4 linked regions of the Homo sapiens genome follow. The protein of the gene in region 1 purifies or fractionates together with the protein of each later gene. This does not show direct contact. Each region holds a gene or a part of one and is shown in the gene's direction. Other genes may lie near its edges.

Region 1 (4,670 bases):
ATATGTGATAGTTAAAAAAGGCACAAGAAGTTCGTTGAGTGCACACAGTCATACAATGATTCACGTGTCCTTTCACATGCACATCGCGTTCAGTACGTACTGACTGAAAAACCTGGGGGTCCTATGGAAGCATGTGGGCTCCCTCTTTCTTCTCTTCCCACCTTTCCCAGCCAGCACCTCCAGCCCTGCCTTGTCCAGTCTGGGGAAGGGAATAGCTAAAGCTGTTACTGACTGAGCCTCAATTTTATTTTTTTCTAGAATTATTGCATCACCTGGAAGCAGATTTGATAATGCCAAAACCTGGAGCCTGTTTCCCAAAAAGGATCCAGGAAAATTTAAGACTTTGTGAGAAGAAAGTCAGTTACCTAGCTAGGAACTATATATGCAAATGCATATATATGCAAATATGCAAATGTACTAATTTTATTTAATCCTCACACAGTACTATTAGATGGAAATTATTATCTCCGTTATATAAAGATATGAAAACCTCAAGAGAGAAAATCACTTGTCCGCGATCACACAGCTAAGGTTCCTGGAGCTCGCATTTGAATGCAGTGGGTTCACTCTGTTTCTGAGCCAAGATTCCAGTTCTGATGCTCTTCCAACAATTGTGGGACCCTGGGTATTTTGCTGAGCGTCACTGGGTGCCCCTTTCCCCATTGTTAATGCAGGGCCATGAGTAATTCCTTGGCCTCCCCTTGCTAGCTCTCAGATGGCAAATTGCTAGAAATGAGAGTTTAGAATCAAGTTGGGGGCTGGTCAGAACTCAGGAAGCCACAGTGTTAGGAAAATTGAGGATGAACTGGGGTGGTGGTGGGATTGCGGATTCTGATAAATTGGGAGCTACACAGGAAAACCTGTGTTGAATTCCCATTGAGCTCCTAATATTGAAGCATACTTACTTAGTACATGCATAGTACATTCTCCCTGCAGCTTAGGAGACAGTCCAGTCAAGTGAACATAATTGAACCTTTCCTTGATGATTCAGGATTTTGCATTGAAATTTATGTTTTCAAGCATCCATTATCTTGTTCTGGGCTGTGGCTAATGGCACAATGGGCCCAGGAAATTGGGCTTACCATAGGCCTACAATCTAGTGGATGCTTTTTTTTTTTTTTTAAATTAAAATGAACCAGGTCCATGATGAGATTATTTTTTTTCTCCTTCCTAAAGGTAGAATACAGGAAATATGGAAATCAATCAAACCCTTACCTTGTTTCTTTTGCCTCAAATGCTGTATTAGTCTGTTTTCACAGTGCTATAAAGAAATACCTGAGACTGGGTAATATATAAAGGAAAGAAGTTTAATTGTTTCACAGTTCTGCGTGGCTGGCGGAGGTGGGAAGGGGTGGTCTCAGGAAACTTACAATCATGGAAGAAGGCAAAGGGGAAGAGGAAGCCAGGCACATCTTACATGGTGGCAGGAAAAAGAGAACAAAGGGGAAGAGCCACACACTTATCAAACAACCAGATCTCCTGAAACTTCTATCAGGAGAAGAGCAAGGGGAAAATATGCCCACATGATTCAGTCACCTCCCACCAGGCGACTCCCACAATATGTGGGTATTATAATTTGAGACGAGAGTTGGGTGGGGACACAGAGCGAAAACATATCATTCTGCCCCTGCTTCCTCCCAAATCTCATGTCCTTTTCATATTTCAAAACCAATCATGCCTTCCCAACAGCACCCTAAGGTCTTAACTCATTCCAGCATTAACTCAAAAGTCTAAGTCCAAAGTCTCATCTGAGACAAGCAAGTTGCTCCTGCCAATGAACCTGTAAAATAAAAAAAAAGTTTGTTACTTCCAAGATACAATGGGAGTATAGGCATTGGGTAAATGTTTCCATTGCAAACGGGAGAAATTGGCCAAAACAAATGGGCCACAGGCCCCATGCAAGTCTGTAACCCAGCAGGGCATGCATTAAAAAAGCTCCAAAATAATGTCCTTTGATTCCATGTCTCACATCCAGGCCACCCTAATGCAAGGCTTGGGCTTCCATGGCCTTGGGCAGCTCCACCCTTGTGACTCTACAGGGTTCAACTCCTGTGGCTGCTTCCATGGGCTGGCATTGAGTACCTGTGGCTTTTCCAGGCACACAGTGCAAGCTGTCTGTGGATCTACCATTCTGGGGTCTGGAGGACGGTGGCCCTCTTCTCACAGTCCAACTAGGCAGTGTCCCATTGGGGATTCTGTGTGGGGGTTCCAACCTCACATTTCCTCTTGCACTGCCCTCACAGAGGTTCTCTATGAGAGCTTCACTCCTGCAGCAGACTCCTGCCTGGACATCCAGGTGTTTCCATACCTCCTCTGAAATCTAGGTGGAGGTTCCCAAAGCCTAACTCTTGTCTTCTGTGCACCCACAGGCCCAACACCACACAGAAGCCACCAAGGCTCAGTGCTTGCACACTCTGAAGCAATGGGCTGAGCTGTACCTTGCTCCCTTTTAGCCATGGCTGGAACTGGAGCGGCTGGGACACAGGGCACCAAGTCCAGCAGCTTCACAGAGCAGTGGGGCCCTGGGCCTGGCCCAGGAAACCATTTTTCCCCCCTAGGCCTCTGGGCCTGTGATTGGAGGGGCTGCCACAAAATTCTCTGATGTGCCCTGGAGACATTTTCCCTGTTGTCTTGGCTATTAACATTCAACTCCTCATTACTTATGCATATTTCTGCAGCTGGCTTGAATTCCTCCGCAGAAAATGGGTTTTTCTTTTCTACCACATGGTCAGGCTACAAGTTTTCTAAATCCTTATGCTCTGCTTTCCTTACCAATATCAGTTCCAATTTCAGACCATCCCTTTGTGAACGCACATAACTGAATGTTTTCAGAATAAGCCAGGTTAACTCTTGAATGCTTTGCTGCTTAGAAATTTCTTCCACCAGATACCCTAAATCATCCTCTGAAGTTCAAAGTTCCACAGATCTTTAGGGCAGGTGCAAAATGCTACCAGTCTCTGACAGAGCATACCATAAGTGTCCTTTACCCCAGTTCCCAATAAGTTCCTCATCTCCATCTGAGACCACCTCAGCCTGGACTTCATTGTCCATATCACTGTCAGCATTTTGGTCAAAACCATTCAGTAAGTCACTGGGAAGTTCCAAACCTTCCCACAATTTCTGATCTTCTTCTGAGCCCTCTAGACTGTCCCAACCTCTGCCCATTACCCAGTTCCAAAGTCTCTTCCATACTTGCAAGTATCTTTATGGGAGTGCCCCAAACTCCAGGCACCAATTTCCTGTATTAGTCCATTTTCACACTGCTATAAAGAAATACCTGAGACTGGGTAATTTATAAAGGAAAGAGGTTTAGTTGACTCACAGTTCTGCATGGCTGGGGAAGTCTCAGGAAACCTACAATCGTGGCAGAAGGGGAAGCAGGAATGTCTTACGTGGTGCCAGGAGAGAGCGCAAGAGTGAAGGGGAAGAGTCACACACTTATCAAACAACTGGATCTTATGAGAATTCTATCACGACAAGAGCAAGGGGGAAATCCACCCCCATGATTCAGTCACCTACCACCAGGCCACTCTGGAAACATGTGGGGATTACAATTTGAGATGAGTTTTGGATGGGGACACAGAGACAAACCATATCAAATGCCCATCCCCTGCTTTCACTTGGTGACTCCCCTTCACCTTGGCCCAGCTTCCCCAGGCATAGAATTTTGTACCTCGCATTTGATTGATCTCTGCTTGTCTGCCCTGTTGAGCTGAGAGCTACTTGAGAGTGGGAGCTGCTTATTCTCCTGTAACCTTACCACTCCACAGCAGGCTGCAGAGTGCATGGTAGGTACTAAGTAAGCATTTGCTGAATGGATGCATGTGAGAATTCTGTAAGGGTTCTGGTTAATCAAGACTTTGCTGCAATAGCTTTACTACTATCCCAGTAACAGTAAGTAGTCAAAGCCAGCATTACAGGACTTTAATTATAAGAATAGTTCTTAGAAGTCCAAAAATGGACTATGGGAGAGAAAACAAGATTGGAGACCATGCTTTAACTTGAGTGAGGGTGATCACTTCTCTAGTTTTTTTAACCTTATGGCTGAAAGAGATTCTGATTTTATGAAAAACATGCTAGACTTGGAGTTCACATCTGGACTGCTTTGTGTCTCTGTGACTGCAGGAGTCAAGTTGGGGATGACCTATAAATTGAGGATGATTACACTACCCTATCACAGGGTGGTTTTTAGTCTCAAAGAATAGTATATATGAATGCAGTTAGCCCAACACTAGGCACTCAGTATACATTAGTTAATTCTGAATAGGGATCTCCTTAAAAGTCATACATACCTGACACTGTGACTGTCCTGAGGCTGTCCAGGGATTCCCCTTTCTTTGCCTGTTAGTGAAAAGATGCTGGCTTCATCTTGGCATTCATCTCATTTGGCACTGGATAGGCATCCTGCTGCCCTGACCATCTTGCCACAGCCAGCTGTGATCAATCACTCTCCTGTTGACAAACCAAGGGAAAATGATCACAAGAAATACCCACTGACTGCATTCTGAGGTATGCTTGCTCCAGGGACATCTGGCAGGCAAGACTGGGTAGTGAGACACATGGAGCCAGCAGCTGCTCTGGAACATAAAGGGCCTGCCTAGTGGACTTAGCATGTTGACAAGAAGATCTATTGTCTTCAGGTTGGAGGAGACACTGAATGCCCACTTAAT
Region 2 (4,670 bases), on another chromosome or scaffold:
ATCTCCCATAAAGACATTGAGGACCTTTGAGTTTATTAAGACAGAGTAAATATATAAAAGTTTTGGGGAGTACGACTACACTCTCTAGCTTTGTCTCTCAAACGTGGCCCAATTTTTTTTTCCTTTCTTTTTCTTTTTTTTTTTTTTGAGACAGGGTCTGGCTCTGTCGCCCAGACTGGAGTCTAGTGGGGCAATCTTGGCTCACTACAACCTCCGCCCCCCAGGTTCAAGCAGTTCTCCTGCCTCAGCCTCCTGAGTAGCTGGGACCTCAGGCGTGTGCCACCATGCCCAGCTGATTTTTGTATTTTTAATGGAGATGGAATTTCACCACGTTGGCCAGGCTGACCTCGAACTCCCGACCTCATGTGATCCGCCCGCCTTGGTCTCCCAAAGTGCTGGGATTACAGGCGTGAGCCACCGTGCCTGGCCATGGCCCAATTTTATAGTTACTCTAGCTATGGAGTAGATGTTTTCAGTTCAAAATTAGGAATTTAAGGTTATATTTTGTTACAAAAATCTTTAAAAATTTCATAAGAAAACAGTTGTTTGGGGTACAAAGAAATTAATCCATAAATAGGATTGTTACAGTGACTAATATAAATAAAAGAACATTTGTGTAATCATGGGAATTATTTTATTTTATTTTTCCTCGACCCAATTAACTGGGTGAAAATTTGCTTGCCAGTTCAGATTTAGAATTGTAGACACAGTTAAAGTTTTTGACCTTGGGAGGGAACCTGAACTTTAGAAAACTTACAACATTCTTTTGCCTGGTATCCCTTTCATAATTTAACTTGATTGTCTTTTATTTATTTTTAGTTATTATTTATTAACACAAAATTATATTTATGATGTATAATGCGATGTTTTGAAGTACTATACATTGTGGAATGGCTAAGTCAAGTTAATTCACATTAGGTGGTATACTGATTCTGACAAGAACACTTAACATCTACTCTCAGCAATTTTTCAATTATGTGATACATTGTTGTTAACTATAGTCACCAGGTTGTATAGATCCCTTGATTGCCTTTTAAAAGTGAGAGAACCTTCTGGATGAGTCTTCGGGCTGTGGTTTTATAAGACTAGTATTAAACTGAACATAACATTTAAAACAAACAGATATTTATTTTCCTCAAACCTGTATATTTGATAGTTCCTTATAACTTTCTGTTTTAAGGGTGATAGGGATTGATAAACAAAAATAATTTGTGGTGCTGAAACTTGACTGAACTCTAGCTTGTTTATAATACCACCTCTCTACATTGTCTTTCCTTATTCAGGTTGAGCACTCCTGATCCCAAAATCAAAAATCCAAATGCTCCAAATTCTGAAACTCCGTTAGTGTTGACATTAATGTTACAAGTGGAAAATTTCACACCTGACTTCACGTGATGGATCACAGTTAAAACTTTGTTTCATGCACAAAATTATTTAAAATATTGTATAAAATTACCTTCAGTCTATGTGAATAAGATGTGTGGGAAACGTGAATGAATTTCATGTTTAGATTTGGGTCCCATCCCCAAGATACCTGATCATGTTTATACAAATATTCTAAAATCTGAAACACTTCTGGTCCCAAGCATTTCAGATAAGAGATACTCAACCTGTATAAAGGGTGCAGTGTTTAAAGTAACTTGATTTGTTGGTTTCATATCAAGGAATAGATGTAGTCTATATGCATGGCAGTTACAAAAGTGAAAAGAGACCTGGCCTGCTGTTATGTACTAGGAAATTTGTCTCCATTAACAGTTTCTCAGGTAGCCACTGTCTTCTAGTTTGTGGATGATGAAACTGAGGTCCAGAGGAAGGTTATGCAGAAGAGCATGAGTGGGAATGAGTATGGGGAAGTAGACAGGGCCTGAATTGGTAGGAATGTGTATTCTGCAGAAGGTGACGGGGGACCATTGAAGTGTGTTTGTTAGTTTTTTGTTTGTTTGTTTTTTGAGACAGAGTTTCGCTCTTGTTGCCCAGGCTGGAGTGCAATGGCGAGATCTCGGCTCACTGCAACTTCCGCCTCCTGGGTTCAAGAGATTCTCCTGCCTCAGCCTCCTGAGTAGCTGAGATTACAGGCATGCGCCACCATGCCCGGCTAATTTTGTATTCTTAGTAGAGACGGGTTTCTCCGTGTTGGTCAGGCTGGTCTCGAACTCCTGACCTCAGATGATCCGCTCGCCTCGGCCTCCCAAAGTACTGGGATTACAGGTGGGAGCCACCACACCTGGCCTTTGTTAAAGGGTTTTTAAATCTTCACTGACTAGGGCTGGGTTTGGGTTGCTGCTGTGGTCGTGGTGGTGAGCATAGCCAGCCATTGTAGGGTTTGTTGCCTTTTTTTTTTTTTTTTTTTTTTTGAGGCAGGGTCTTGCTCTGTTGTCCAGGCTGGAGTTCAGTGGCGCAGTGATAGCTCACTGCAGCCGCCAGGCCTCCAACTCCTGGGCTTGAGTGTTGCTTCTGTCTCAGCCACTCAAGTAGCTGGGACCAGAGGCATCAACCACTGTGTCCAGCCTCATTTTTTTTTTTTTTCTTTTTGTTTTGAGACAGTCTCACTCTGTCTCCCAGGCGGGAGTGCAGTGGTGTTATTTCAGCTTACTGCAACCTCTGCCTCCTGTGCTCAAGCGATTCTCCTGCCTCAGCCTCCTGAATTGGGACTACAGGTTCACACCACCATGCCTGGCTAATTTTGTTTTTTTTGTTGTTTTTGTAGAGACGAGGTTTCCCCATGTTGCCCAGGCTGGTCTGAAACTCCTGAGCTTCAGGTGATCTGTGATAGGGGTAGGATTTGAAACCAGGCTGTTCAGTGTGTGTCTGTCTTGTTCTAGGCATTGAGTTCTGGGTTGGTTGGTTCTTTAGTCAAAATTATTTTCTTTTTTATTGTGTAAATTCATTATTTTTTTTCTATCCTTGATTTAGCACTTTTTTTTTTTTCCAGAATACCGTGTTGGGTTTAACTTAACTGCCTTGTCATCTTGTTAACAAAAATTGTATTAAACAGCACATGCCGGGCTGGGCATGGTGCCTCTGTCCTATAATCCCAGCACTTTGAGAGGCTAAGGTGGGAGGATCACTTGAGGCTAGGAGTTTGAGACTGCAGTGAGCTATGATCCTGCCACTGCACTCTAGCCTGGGTAACAGAGTGAGACTGTGTGTCTCTTTAAAAAAGCACAGCCTTCACTTAAATGAAAATTGAGTGAATCATTTTATCAATGGACTCTGTTAAGTTGGAACAGGTACCATTCCATGGGAAGGTGAACCTCTTTGGCTCATGTCCTAACACAGGTGGTTTATGCTTTCAACAGATATTTATTATGCCAGGAACTGTTAGGGGCTCTGGGGCTGCATAGTGAACAGCATCAAAAGGGAGTATTGTCACACTCCATTTGTAGACAAAATGGATTTCTTGGAGATGCTGCTGAACAGTAGGATTTCAACCCTGACTAAGCTGTTGCTTGTCACTTGTTCCAATAGCAGCAACAGGTTTTTTGTTTTTTGTTTTTTTTTGAGATGGAGTCTTGCTGTGTTGCCCAGGCTGGAGTGCAGTGGTGCAATCTTTGCTCACTGCAAACTCCGCCTCCTGGGTTCAAGCAGTTCTCCTGCTTCAGCCTCCCAGTTGCTGGGATTACAGGCGAGTGCCACCATGCCCAGCTAATTTTTGTATTTTTAGTAGAGACGGGGTTTTACCATGTTGGCCAGGCTGGTCTTGAACTCCTCACGTCGTGATCTGCCCGCCTTGGCCTCCCAAAGTGCTGGGATTACAGGTGTTAGCCCCCAGGCCCAGCCTAGCAGCAACAGAATCTTTAATGAGCAAGTAGAAACAGCCAGAAGTGAAGTGGTGTTGGTACTAGGGAAAGGTTAGAAGGAGTCAGATTTGAAACACGAATGCATGTTTTACTAGCCGTGTGACTTTCAATTTGGCACCTCACCTTTCCAAGCCTCAGCTTCTTTTCGTGTAAACTGAGGATAGTCCCTCCCTAGTGGAGTTTCTCTTGGTATTAAATGTATGAAGTGCCTGACATGTAGGTCCCTTGCTAGTATAGGAGGTGCTGGAAATGAAGTATGTGTCTTTACGAGGTGTTACTGATAGGGTGATGACAACAAGAATCTGTCCATTAAACTGACAGTGTTAGATGTTTCCAGGTTAGTAGGCTTCTTTCAGCAATTAGTGTGTATGTGTGGGGTAAGGAAGGTGCTATGAGATACATTTCTTAGGCAATAGAGAGCTTCAATTAAGTAGCCAAATTACAGTTGATGTTATTGTGTAACTGTTTTGGCAGTATGTATCAGAATCCATTCATGCTCTTTGACCCAGAAATGCTACTGTAGCGGTCCTGCTATTGCCATATCAATTAAGGATAACTGGGAGTGGGAAGCCATATAAGCCAAGATGTTCATAGAGACATTATCAAAGGTATATAACAGAAAAAAACACCTCATTCTTTAACAGCTGGTAAGTGGTGTTTTAGCTCTTAGAATGTTGTCCTTAAACAATTGTTATGAAGTCTGACTGTCTCACACCTTGCATTTAGAATATGTGAGAAGGGAACTAACCTCAGGAATACTGTGATTGCAGCAAACATGGTGGAGGAGCGTGAGTGGGAATGAGTGTGGGGAGGTAGACAGGGCCTGAATCAGTAGGAATGTGTATTCTGCAGAAGGTGACGGGGGACCAT
Region 3 (4,670 bases), on another chromosome or scaffold:
GCTGGGACTACAGGCATGGGCCACCATGCCCAGCTAATTTTTATATTTTTTGTAGAGACGGGATTTCATCATGTTGCCCAGGCTGGTCTCAAACTTTTGAGCTCAAGCAATCCGCCTGCCTCAGCTTCCCAAAGTGCTGGGATTACAAGCATGAGCTGCTACACCTGACCCAATTATACTTTTTTTTTTTTTTTTTTTTTTGAGATGGAGTCTCACTCTGTTGCAAGGCTGGAGGGCAGTGGCGCAATCTCGGCTCACTGCAACCTACGCCTCCCGGGTTCAAGTGATTCTCCTGCCTCAGCCTCCCAAGTAGATGGGACTAGAGGCACGCACCACCAGGCCCAGTTAATTTTTGTATTTTTAGTAGAGACAGGGTTTCACCATGTTGGCCACGATGATCTCGATTTCTTGACCTCGTGATTTGCCCACTTCAGCCTCCCAAAGTTACAGGCATGAGCCACTGTGCCTGGCCTCTATACTTCTTAAGTTATTTTAAAATGTGTAATTAAATTACTATTGACTAGAGTTGCCGTGTTTTGCTACCAAATACTAGATCTCATTCATTCTTTTTTTTTTTGAGATGGAGTCTCGCTCTGTTGCCCAGGCTGGAGTGCAGTGGCGCGATCTTGGCTCACTGCAACCTCTGCCTCCTGGGTTCACACCATTCTCCTGCCTCAGCCTCCGGAGTAGCTGGGACTACAGGCGCCCGCCACCATGCCCAGCTAATTTTTTTGTATTTTTTAGTAGAGACAGGGTTTCACCATGTTAGCCAGGATGGTCTCAATCTCCTGACCTCGTGATCCGCCCGCCTTGGCCTCCCAAAGTGCTGGGATTACAGGCATGAGCCGCCGCGCCCGTCCTCGTTCATTCTATTTTTTGTAGCCATTAACCATCCCCGGTTCTGTGCTTTTGAAGCGCTAGGATTCCAGATTCTTTCTTTTAAAAATTTTATGTTTATTATTTTTTCTTTATTTCTTTTTTCTTTTAATTCATCCATCTGCACACTGAAGGGGTTCCAGATTCTTAGTCTCCTCTCGGGGGATCCCAGGGGGCTGGATGGCAGGTTTCCCAGTCTGAGTCAAGAGTCAGCCCCTGCAGCCCTGTGGTCACCAGGAGCTCCTGCAGGATTTAGAGTCAAGGGTCTGCATGCAGACCAGGGCAGTGCCAGCTACCCCCACACACTGGCAAACGGTGGCATCTGGGCTCCCTCCCCAGATGTGGTCTTTAGGGACATCTTATCTCCTTGCCAGCCCTGTGACTACCTTCTCAGGGCCTCCCTGACTTGGTCACTAGCCCCAGGTCAGGCGCCAGCATGTGCTAAGTCAGAAGGAAGTCAGGCGGGTCTATGGCGGAGAGCCAAGGCTTGGGGACTCACCACCTTGCTGCTTCTCTCCTCAGGATCTTCATCATCTGGGCCATCAGCAGTTGGTTCCGCCGAGGGCCGGCCCCTCAGGACCAGGCGGGCCCCGGAGGAGCTCCACGCGTCGCCAGCCGCAACCTGTTCCCCAAAGACACTTTAATGGTAACTGCCGGGTGGTAGGGCAGACTTGGGAGGTGATGGGGTGTGGAGGGGTGGAATGTGGAGGAGTGATGTCAGCAGTCGGGACAGACCAGGTCCTTGCTCACTGGCAGGTCTAGGAAAACAGGTCCAGGGTTGAGGAACTCTGGGCCCATCCCCAACACGTGAGACCTCTGTCACCTGGGTCCATCCCCAGCACATAAAACCTGTGTCACCCAAAAGAAAAAGCAAATTCATTTGGTTAAAATAGGTTAAATCAGGGTCTTTGGATGTTATATTTCAAAAGTATGTTCAGCCTTTCAGGGTTGCAGAGGGAGATGTGCAAGGGAGAGAGTGTGAGAGGTGGGGAGGGCAGGGAGCCAGCAGAGGCTGACAGGAGGTGGGCCCGGAAGGAGAGGAGACCTGCACTTCCACAGTGGGCTTGGGCACAGGCAGGGCAGGGCTTCAGGAGCCTCCAGAGCAAAAGCATTTAGATCTGTCAGTCTAGGCTTTTCTGAGCAAACATGGCCATTGGGGCTTGAGAAAGGAGGAAGTTCTTGTTGGGTCACAGTGGGTTTTTTTTTTTTTTTTTTTTGAGATGGAGTCTCACTCTGTCGCCCAGGCTAGAGTGCAGTGGCATAATCTTAGCTCACTGCAACCTCTGCCTCCCGGGCTCCAGTGATCCTCCTGCCTCAGCCTCACGACTAGCTGGGATTACAGGCATGTGCCACCACGTCCAGCTAATTTTTTGTATTTTTAGTAGAGATGGGGTTTTACCTTTTTGGTACGCTGGTCTCGAACTCCTGACCTCAAGTGGTCTACCCGCCTTGGCCTCCCAACGTGCTGGGATCACAGGCATGAGCCACCGTGCCCGGTGGCTCACAGTGCTTTTGTAGCTCTGGACTGCTTCGTCCATAAGCCTGCAGAGCTCTGACCAGGAAGGCCCAGCAGCCATGAGGGCAGGAGATCATTCAGGGAGCTCCTGCCCCTTCCTACCCCTAAATTCTAATTGGCAGGCTGGCCAGTCTCCAAGTGTTCTTTGTTCGTTGACTTCACAGGCTCAGACCAGGACAAACATGGTGGTATGAGAAAAGAGAAAATATGTCCTCTCTGCTGCTCTTCCTCTCTCCTCTCCCCTGTCCTCCATAATTACTGTTCCCCTGAGTGTGCTGACCGCTGCCATAGCTCTTTAGCCAGCCTGCAGAGGCTCTGAAGAGCAGGCCTGAGCTCTGTTCCCTTCCTGTCCCAACAGAACCTGCATGTGTACATCTCAGAGCACGAGCACTTTACAGACTTCAACGCCACGTCGGCACTCTTCTGGGAACAGCACGATCTTGTGTATGGCGACTGGACTAGCGGCGAGAACTCAGACGGCTGCTACGAGCACTTTGCTGAGCTCGATATCCCACAGGTGGGGGCAGCTCTCGGTTTCTGGCCCCATGGCTGCTTGACTGGCACTGAAGGACCTTTTCCTCCAGTCCGCTCCTTGCTGAGAGCATGTGGAGTTTGGGCTCCAGGCTTGGCCCTTCCCTGGGCTCACATGGTCTGTGACCACAAGCCAGTCCCTGAGATCTCTGGGCTTCACTTTCCCCTACCTGAAAAAGGTAGATAGGGGTGGAATTGGCCTGGGACCCTCCCAGCTACCTCTAAGGTTGTGCAGTCCTCCACTTTAAACTGGTGAAAGATTAGTAATTGTCCTTGGGGATGTTTGCCTATCACCAGTTTATCAGGCAGCCCCGTTTCAAAATAATATTAGTTAATGTTGATTGAGCTAAGTGCAGGGTACTAAGCTAGGCTGACTCATGGAAATTTCCCGGCAACCCTGTGAAGCAGGAACTGTTATTATTCTCATTTAACATGTGAGGAAACTGAGAGAGAAGGAAAGTGATTTACCCAAGGCCACATCGCATGAGAGATTCAGACTCAGGCTCTACGGCTGTGGACTCTCGCAGCCCTAGGCTCAAATCCAACCTCCTCCAGGAAGCCCTCCCTGACTCACAGAGCACTCAGGCTTGGTTAAGCACCCTCTCTGGGTTCTCACACCTGCTGGGCTTCCCCATCCCAGCCCATTCTGGGGCCTCATTGGGACTCCTGTATGGGACTGTGAGCCTTGTGATAATAAGGCTGGGGCTGCCTAGATCACTTCCATGTCCCCAGCACTGCCCAACGTGGGGCTGGGTGCAGAATCAGCAAGTATTGAACAAGTAAAAGGGACATCTCTCTTTGGGGCCTTCTTCGGCTGAGTCCAAGACAGCTGCCCTCATTCCTTTCTCCCCAGCAGGCCTTCTCAGCTTTGGGGTGGAGGGCACATTTCTGTTCTATTTCTGTCTGGGTAGCTAGAAGCAGAATGTGGACACAGTCATTCTGGTTTTTTTTTTTGTTTTTTGTTTTTTTTTGAGACAGCGTCTCGCTCTGTCACCCAGTCTGGAGGGCAGTGGCGCAACCTTGGCTCACTGCAACTTCACCTCCCAGGTTCAAGCGATTCTCATGTGCCAGCCTCCTGAGTAGCTGGGACTAAGGCACACATGATCACACCCAGCTAATTTTTTTATTTTTTAGTAGAGACAAGGTTTCACTATGTTGGCCAGGTTGGCCTTGAACTCCTGACCTCAAGTGATCCACCTACCTTGGTCTCCCAAAGTGCTGGGATTACAGGCGTGAGACACCGCGTCCAGCCATCATTCTTTTCTTTTTGAGATGGGGTCTTGCTCTGTTGCCTAGGCTGAAGTGCAGTGGTGCAATTACAGCTCACTGCAGCCTCAACCTCCTGGGCTCAAGCAATCTTTTCACCTCAGCCTCCCAAGTAGCTGGGACAACAGGCATGCACCACCATGCCCAGCTAATTTTTTGTAGAGATGGGGTCTCAACATGTTTCCCAGGCTGGTCTCAAACTCCTCTGCTCAAGCGATCCTCTCACCTCAGCCTCTCAAAGTGCTGGAATTACAGGCATGAACCACCCCACCTGGCTGGACTTTCTGACCTGCACTGAGAGGTGACTCCCACAGAGACCTCAAGCCCAGCCCCCAGGCCTTGCCACGAGATCCAAGGAAGGACCAGGGCCTGGCAGGCCCAGCAGGGGGATCTGCTTCCAAGGGCTTGGATCTAAGTCGAAGCTTCAGGGTGGGGTCCAAGTGGACTTAAAAGGCAGGAGAGCTGGGCACAGTGGCATGTG
Region 4 (5,239 bases), on another chromosome or scaffold:
TCTCTCACCCAGGCTGTAGTGCAACGGCATGATCTCAGCTCACTGCAACCTCTGCCTCTCGGTTTCAAGCAATTCTCCTGTCTCAGCCTCTGGAGTAACTGGGACTACAGGCGCGCGCCACCATGCCTGCCTAATTTTTGTACTTTTGGTAGAGACAGGGTTTCACTATGTTGGCTAGGCTGGTCTCGAACTCCTGGCCTCAAGTGATTCGCCTGCCTCAGCCTTCCAAAGTGCTGGGATTACAGGTGTGAGCCACCGGGCCCAGCCAGAACTGGAGTCTTTGGTCACATTGTTCAACTGCCTCTTTACCAACCTTGGACATACCTACCTCCAAACATTTTATTATGTGAGAAAACAAACCTTCTTATTGCTTAAGCCATTTTGAATTGGGCCATAGATATCTTAACACAGAGAATTTGATACCAGGAAATGAGGCCTCCCTGGGTACACCATGATGATAGAATCAGGCCAGAGCTCCACTTTTCCACTCTAGAAACTGTTATCCTGCCATTCTTACTTCCTGTAATGAGGAAGATGTTTTAGAAGGGATAACTTCCCTCTTGATGAAATTCTCTAATTCTGAATAATTCTGGGGCTGAGGTGTGGGTGTCAGTTCTACTTCTTGAAATAAAGTATCATTTAGGTGCGCACGGGAATTATGTTTCGAAAGGGAAAGGCTGGAGTCTTGGTGTCAGTGTTCTAAGGTTTTGTGAGAGACTAAGAACCCAAAATAAATGATCTTCAACAGCAAAATGGATGTTATGCAATTCACAGAGCACTATGAGCACTCTCTCAATTCACACAACTTTGAGTGATGGGCAGCATGACTTCATTTTACAGACGGGGTTCAGAAAGTGTCAGCAACTGGTGGAAGGCAAAGTAGAAACTCCTGGCTCCCTCCTTCGTCTCCAGTTTTCTCCAGCTGGCAGGGTAAGTATGCATTTCTCCATGTTCGTGCCATTCAGGTTGAGAAGGAAGACAAGCAAACCAGACATGCTTGTCTTCGACCGAGTCTGGGATCGTCCACCTTCCTGCTTGGAGTTGGTGGTTAAGTGGCCCCACAGTTTGGACTCGTGTGACCTGACTTTCATTTCAGCTGACCTTGAACAGCGGGTCTATAACTGCACCTACTTCCAGTAGTGTTGTAATGACACAAACAGACAGTGTGGAACTTGAAGGCAGGGCCCACCCATTGTCAGCGCGACTCCTGAGGGCTCCGTGTGACAGTCACTGTTGCTGAACCAAGGCAGCCAACGGTGGGGTAGAAGGCGGACTCTGGAGCCAGACCGTCTGGATTTGAACGCGGATTCGGCCACTTACTAGTTCCGTGATCTTGGGTACATCACTTAAACCTGTGTCTCAGTCTCCTCTTCTGTAAAATGGGAATAACAGTCATACCTTCCTTGCAGGGTTGTTTTGAGGTTCAGATACGTTAATACACGTGCAAAATGTTCGGAACGACTCCAGACACAGCCGGCGCCAGACTGGAAGTGGAACCGCTGGTGGGGATCATAACCTCGCTGGCTAGGAACCCCAGCAGCGGGGCAGCAGCGCACCGCGGGCTTTGCCGACTCACCCTGGCTGGGCAGGTCCGCCGCGCTCTCCCCCGCCCCCGCCCCCGCGGCCTAAGTCGGCCCGGCCGGTGCGTCACCCGCGCCCCTCCCGCCCCGCGACCTGCAAACTCACCCTGAGTCAGCCCGCCCGGGCGTTTCCACTCCCCGGACGCCGCGCGGCGCAGGGGAGGCGAGAGGCGCCCCCCGGTGGAGAGCCTGAGCCCCGCGCGAGTCTGGCGGCACCTGGCGAGCGGAGCCGGAGTCGGGCTGGGGACCGCGGGGTCGAGGCCGGACCGCGGCGGGGTCGGGGGAGAAACGCGCGCTGCCCTGGCACGGGCCCCCCCCCCCGGCCGCGCGGAATGGTATGGCCCGGCCGGAGTTAAGGCCGGGGGGAGGCGGCGAGTCCCGCGGCGGCGGCGACGATGGGGCTGCGTGCAGGAGGAACGCTGGGCAGGGCCGGCGCGGGTCGGGGGGCGCCCGAGGGGCCCGGGCCGAGCGGCGGCGCGCAGGGCGGCAGCATCCACTCGGGCCGCATCGCCGCGGTGCACAACGTGCCGCTGAGCGTGCTCATCCGGCCGCTGCCGTCCGTGTTGGACCCCGCCAAGGTGCAGAGCCTCGTGGACACGATCCGGGTGAGGCCTCGGGGAGTCCAGCCAACCGGAGGGAGGGCTTCGGAGGAGGGAGGTTGCCGGAGGAGGGAGGTCGCTGCGATGGACGCGAGACGGACTGGTTCCGGGCCCAGCCGGAGCTCAGCCTCTGCTGTGTGACCTTGAGCAAGTAGCTGGGCCTCTCTGGGCCTCTGTTTCCTCACTTGAGCAAGGAGGGAATTGGGCGAGATAATTAAAGTAGTGATGATAACGCTTATAACGCTAGTGCTTGCAGTGGTCCAGGAACTGCAGGAAGTCCCTCAGTTTCCTATGCCAACCCTAGGAGGTAGATAGTGGCTCTTTTGCAGACGAGAACTGAGGCAGGGAAGATTTCAGCGGCTTGACTAAGATCAGGCGCTTAAAAAGTGACACGGCTGGAATTCACACCCAGGCAGCCTGGGCCCCACTGCCCAGCACATGGCCACCGCACTACCCGGAGATAAGCCGTGGGCTCTCATGGCTGTGACAGTCAGTGACAGTGGGACTAGGTGTGTCATATCTGCTGGGAGGCCCTTGTCTGAATGGGAAGTGGGAGAGGTCAAGGGTCAGCTCCACCACTGAGGAAGGGTGTTAAGAATACCGGAGTGATTCTGGCAGGAACTTGGGGGCCCCGCAAGAACAGGTGTCAGGTTAGGCCTACATAACGTTGTGTCCCCTTCCCCCGACCCTTGGAAGGTGAGCACATGAGATCCCTAAGCCCCACCCAGCACCTCTACAGCCACCCCCGATAACTTTCAGTCCTAGTATTTACACTAGTGTCCTCACTGCCTGGAGCCACTTCCCCAGACAACCACAGGGCCTGCTCCCCTGCCTGGTTCAGCTCTCTGCCTCCTTGATCACCCTTGGTCAGAGTCACTGGCCTCTCTAGCTCTCCCCTTAGCCCGAGATGTTTTTCAGGATACCACTTATGTCCACCAGAAATTATATTATACATCTATTTGTGTTGCATTTTATTTTCTGTCTTCCTGACCTCACGTGCACTCCACAAGGGCGAGGACCTCGTCCCATCTTATCTGTTGCCACAATAGTAGCACGGCGCCTGGCTGAGATGGGAAGGGATCTGCCATGCATGCCCTGTCCCACCACTGGGCTTTTTCTCCCGTTGAGAACCTCTTCTATCTCTGCCTTGTCGTTTCTCACTCTTTCTCGGTCTTCCTGTCTCAGTGTCAGGATCTTCCCTGACCATCCCTACCGGGTTAGGAGCTTCTGTGGGCCTGCAGCCACCTGTGTGCCCACCTGCATAGCTCTGATCTCACTGGCTTTTTTTTTTTTTTTTTAAGACGTTGTCTGGGTCTGTCACCCTGGCTGGAGTGCAGTGGCACGATCTTGGCTCACTGCAACCTCCGCCTCCCGGGTTCAAGCCATTCTCCTGCCTCAGCCTCCCAAGTAGCTGGGATTACAGGCGCCCACCACCACGCCTGGCTAATTTTTGTATTTTTAGTAGAGATGGGGTTTCACCCTGTTGGCCAGGCTGGTCTGAAACTCCAGACCTCAAGCGATCTGCCCACCTCGGCCTCCCAAAGTGCTGGGATTACAGCCCACTGGCTTTTAACGTCCTGTCTAGACACCTGCCTTCCGTGCTAGAACCGTAGGCTCTGAGGGCCAGAACCAGCTCTGCCTTTGCTTACATACACCTGTATTAGTTTTCTGGGGCCACTGTAAGTTACCACAAAGTTGATGGCTTAAAACAACACAGGTTTATTTATGGTCAGAAGTCCAAAATGGGTCTTACTGGGCTAACACCAAGCAGGGCTGCACTACTTTCTGTAGGCTCTAGGGGAGAATCCATTTCCTCGCCTTTCCCAGCTTCCAGACGCCACCCACACTGCTTGGCTTATGGCCTCTTCCTCTGTCTTCAAAGCCAGCAACATCAGGCCAAGGCCTTCTCACATCGCATCACTCTGACCTCTTCCTCTACTTCCTCTTCCAGTTTTAAGGACCCTGATAATGGCATTCGACCCATCTAGATAACCTTGGATAATTTCCGCATCTCAGGATCCTTACCTTAATTCTGTCTGCCAAGTCCCTTCTCCCATGTAAGGTAACACATTCAGAAGCATTCGGGCGTGGACATCTTTGGGAGCCATCATTCTGGCCATCCACCATCGTGCCTCCAGTACCCGGCACAAGGCCTGCCTGGCACGGCTGCCCTCCTTAGTGCTCCACTAATGCCCGGTAGGCATCAGCTCACTGACTCTTCATCAGCAGCCCTCTAGGATGTTTTATTCCCAGTTTACAGGTGAGGAATGGTGTTCAGAGGGCTGTGTGCCCCAGCTGCTGTGGAGAGGAGCTGAGATCCAAAGTCAGGTGTGCCAGGTTCCAGAGCTCAGGCTTGTGACTGCTGCACCTTACTGCTGAATAATCATTTGTGGAATCATGAGAGAGAACCCGTGGACCAGCAGCAGGAGGCCTTCCACGCCGCTCACACTTAATGGGGTCTCCCCAGAGTGCTCTACCCTGCACCCGTCCTGCCCCAGACTTTCCCTGTTTAGAGGATGACCTACTCTCCACCTGGCTGTGTGGGCCCCTAACAGGAAGTCAACTTAGATTCTCCCTTTTCTCTTGCCCTTGGATTCACCCCTTCTGCCAGACCCCTTGGGCCTGCCCCGTAAATGTGTCCCAAACCTGTCTACCTCTCCCTGTCCCCACCACACCATCATCCAGACCAGCATCTTCTGCTGAATACCTGCAGAGGCCTCCCCTCTGCCTTCCAGCCCTGTGCCCTGTCCACCCTGCCAAGTCTGTTCTCCTGTGACAACTTTCTAGAACATGCATCAGATCATGTCACCCTCCCCTGTTGCCAACACTCCAGGGCCCACCCACTGCTCTCAGAAGCAGACCTGCACCATCTGGCTCCTGCTGGCCTTTCTGACCATTCCTGGAGCCCTGGAGTCCACTCTAGTGAACTCCTTGCTGTGCCTCCTACACAGTGAACGTGCTCTGGTTTCAAGTCCTTTGCGTTTGCTGTTCCCTTTGCATGGAACGTTCTTCCCTCAGGTCATACACAGCATACATTACTGAGCACTTTCCGTGTGCCAA

What was found. The genes of interacting proteins can lie anywhere in the genome.
Region 2: the proteins of KCNQ3 (region 1) and NAP1L4 purify together in Homo sapiens (affinity purification with mass spectrometry, with the first as the bait; one large-scale study listed by BioGRID). This does not show direct contact.
Region 3: the proteins of KCNQ3 (region 1) and CLPTM1 purify together in Homo sapiens (affinity purification with mass spectrometry, with the first as the bait; one large-scale study listed by BioGRID). This does not show direct contact.
Region 4: the proteins of KCNQ3 (region 1) and SRXN1 purify together in Homo sapiens (affinity purification with mass spectrometry; one large-scale study listed by BioGRID and IntAct). This does not show direct contact.

Annotation. Positions count from the first base shown.
Region 1 is NC_000008.11:132,473,803-132,478,472, reverse strand, and holds part of KCNQ3 (potassium voltage-gated channel subfamily KQT member 3), read left to right. Parts: intron 1-4,670. UniProt on the Homo sapiens protein: Pore-forming subunit of the voltage-gated potassium (Kv) M-channel which is responsible for the M-current, a key controller of neuronal excitability. M-channel is composed of pore-forming subunits KCNQ2 and KCNQ3 assembled as heterotetramers.
Region 2 is NC_000011.10:2,981,851-2,986,520, reverse strand, and holds part of NAP1L4 (nucleosome assembly protein 1-like 4), read left to right. Parts: intron 1-4,670. UniProt on the Homo sapiens protein: Acts as a histone chaperone in nucleosome assembly.
Region 3 is NC_000019.10:44,971,689-44,976,358, forward strand, and holds part of CLPTM1 (putative lipid scramblase CLPTM1), read left to right. Parts: intron 1-1,398; coding exon 1,399-1,522; intron 1,523-2,750; coding exon 2,751-2,909; intron 2,910-4,670. UniProt on the Homo sapiens protein: Involved in GABAergic but not glutamatergic transmission. Binds and traps GABAA receptors in the endoplasmic reticulum (ER).
Region 4 is NC_000020.11:649,922-655,160, reverse strand, and holds the start of SRXN1 (sulfiredoxin-1), read left to right. Parts: upstream 1-1,960; 5' UTR 1,961-1,975; coding exon 1,976-2,185; exon of another isoform or gene 2,186-2,208; intron 2,209-5,239. UniProt on the Homo sapiens protein: Contributes to oxidative stress resistance by reducing cysteine-sulfinic acid formed under exposure to oxidants in the peroxiredoxins PRDX1, PRDX2, PRDX3 and PRDX4. Does not act on PRDX5 or PRDX6.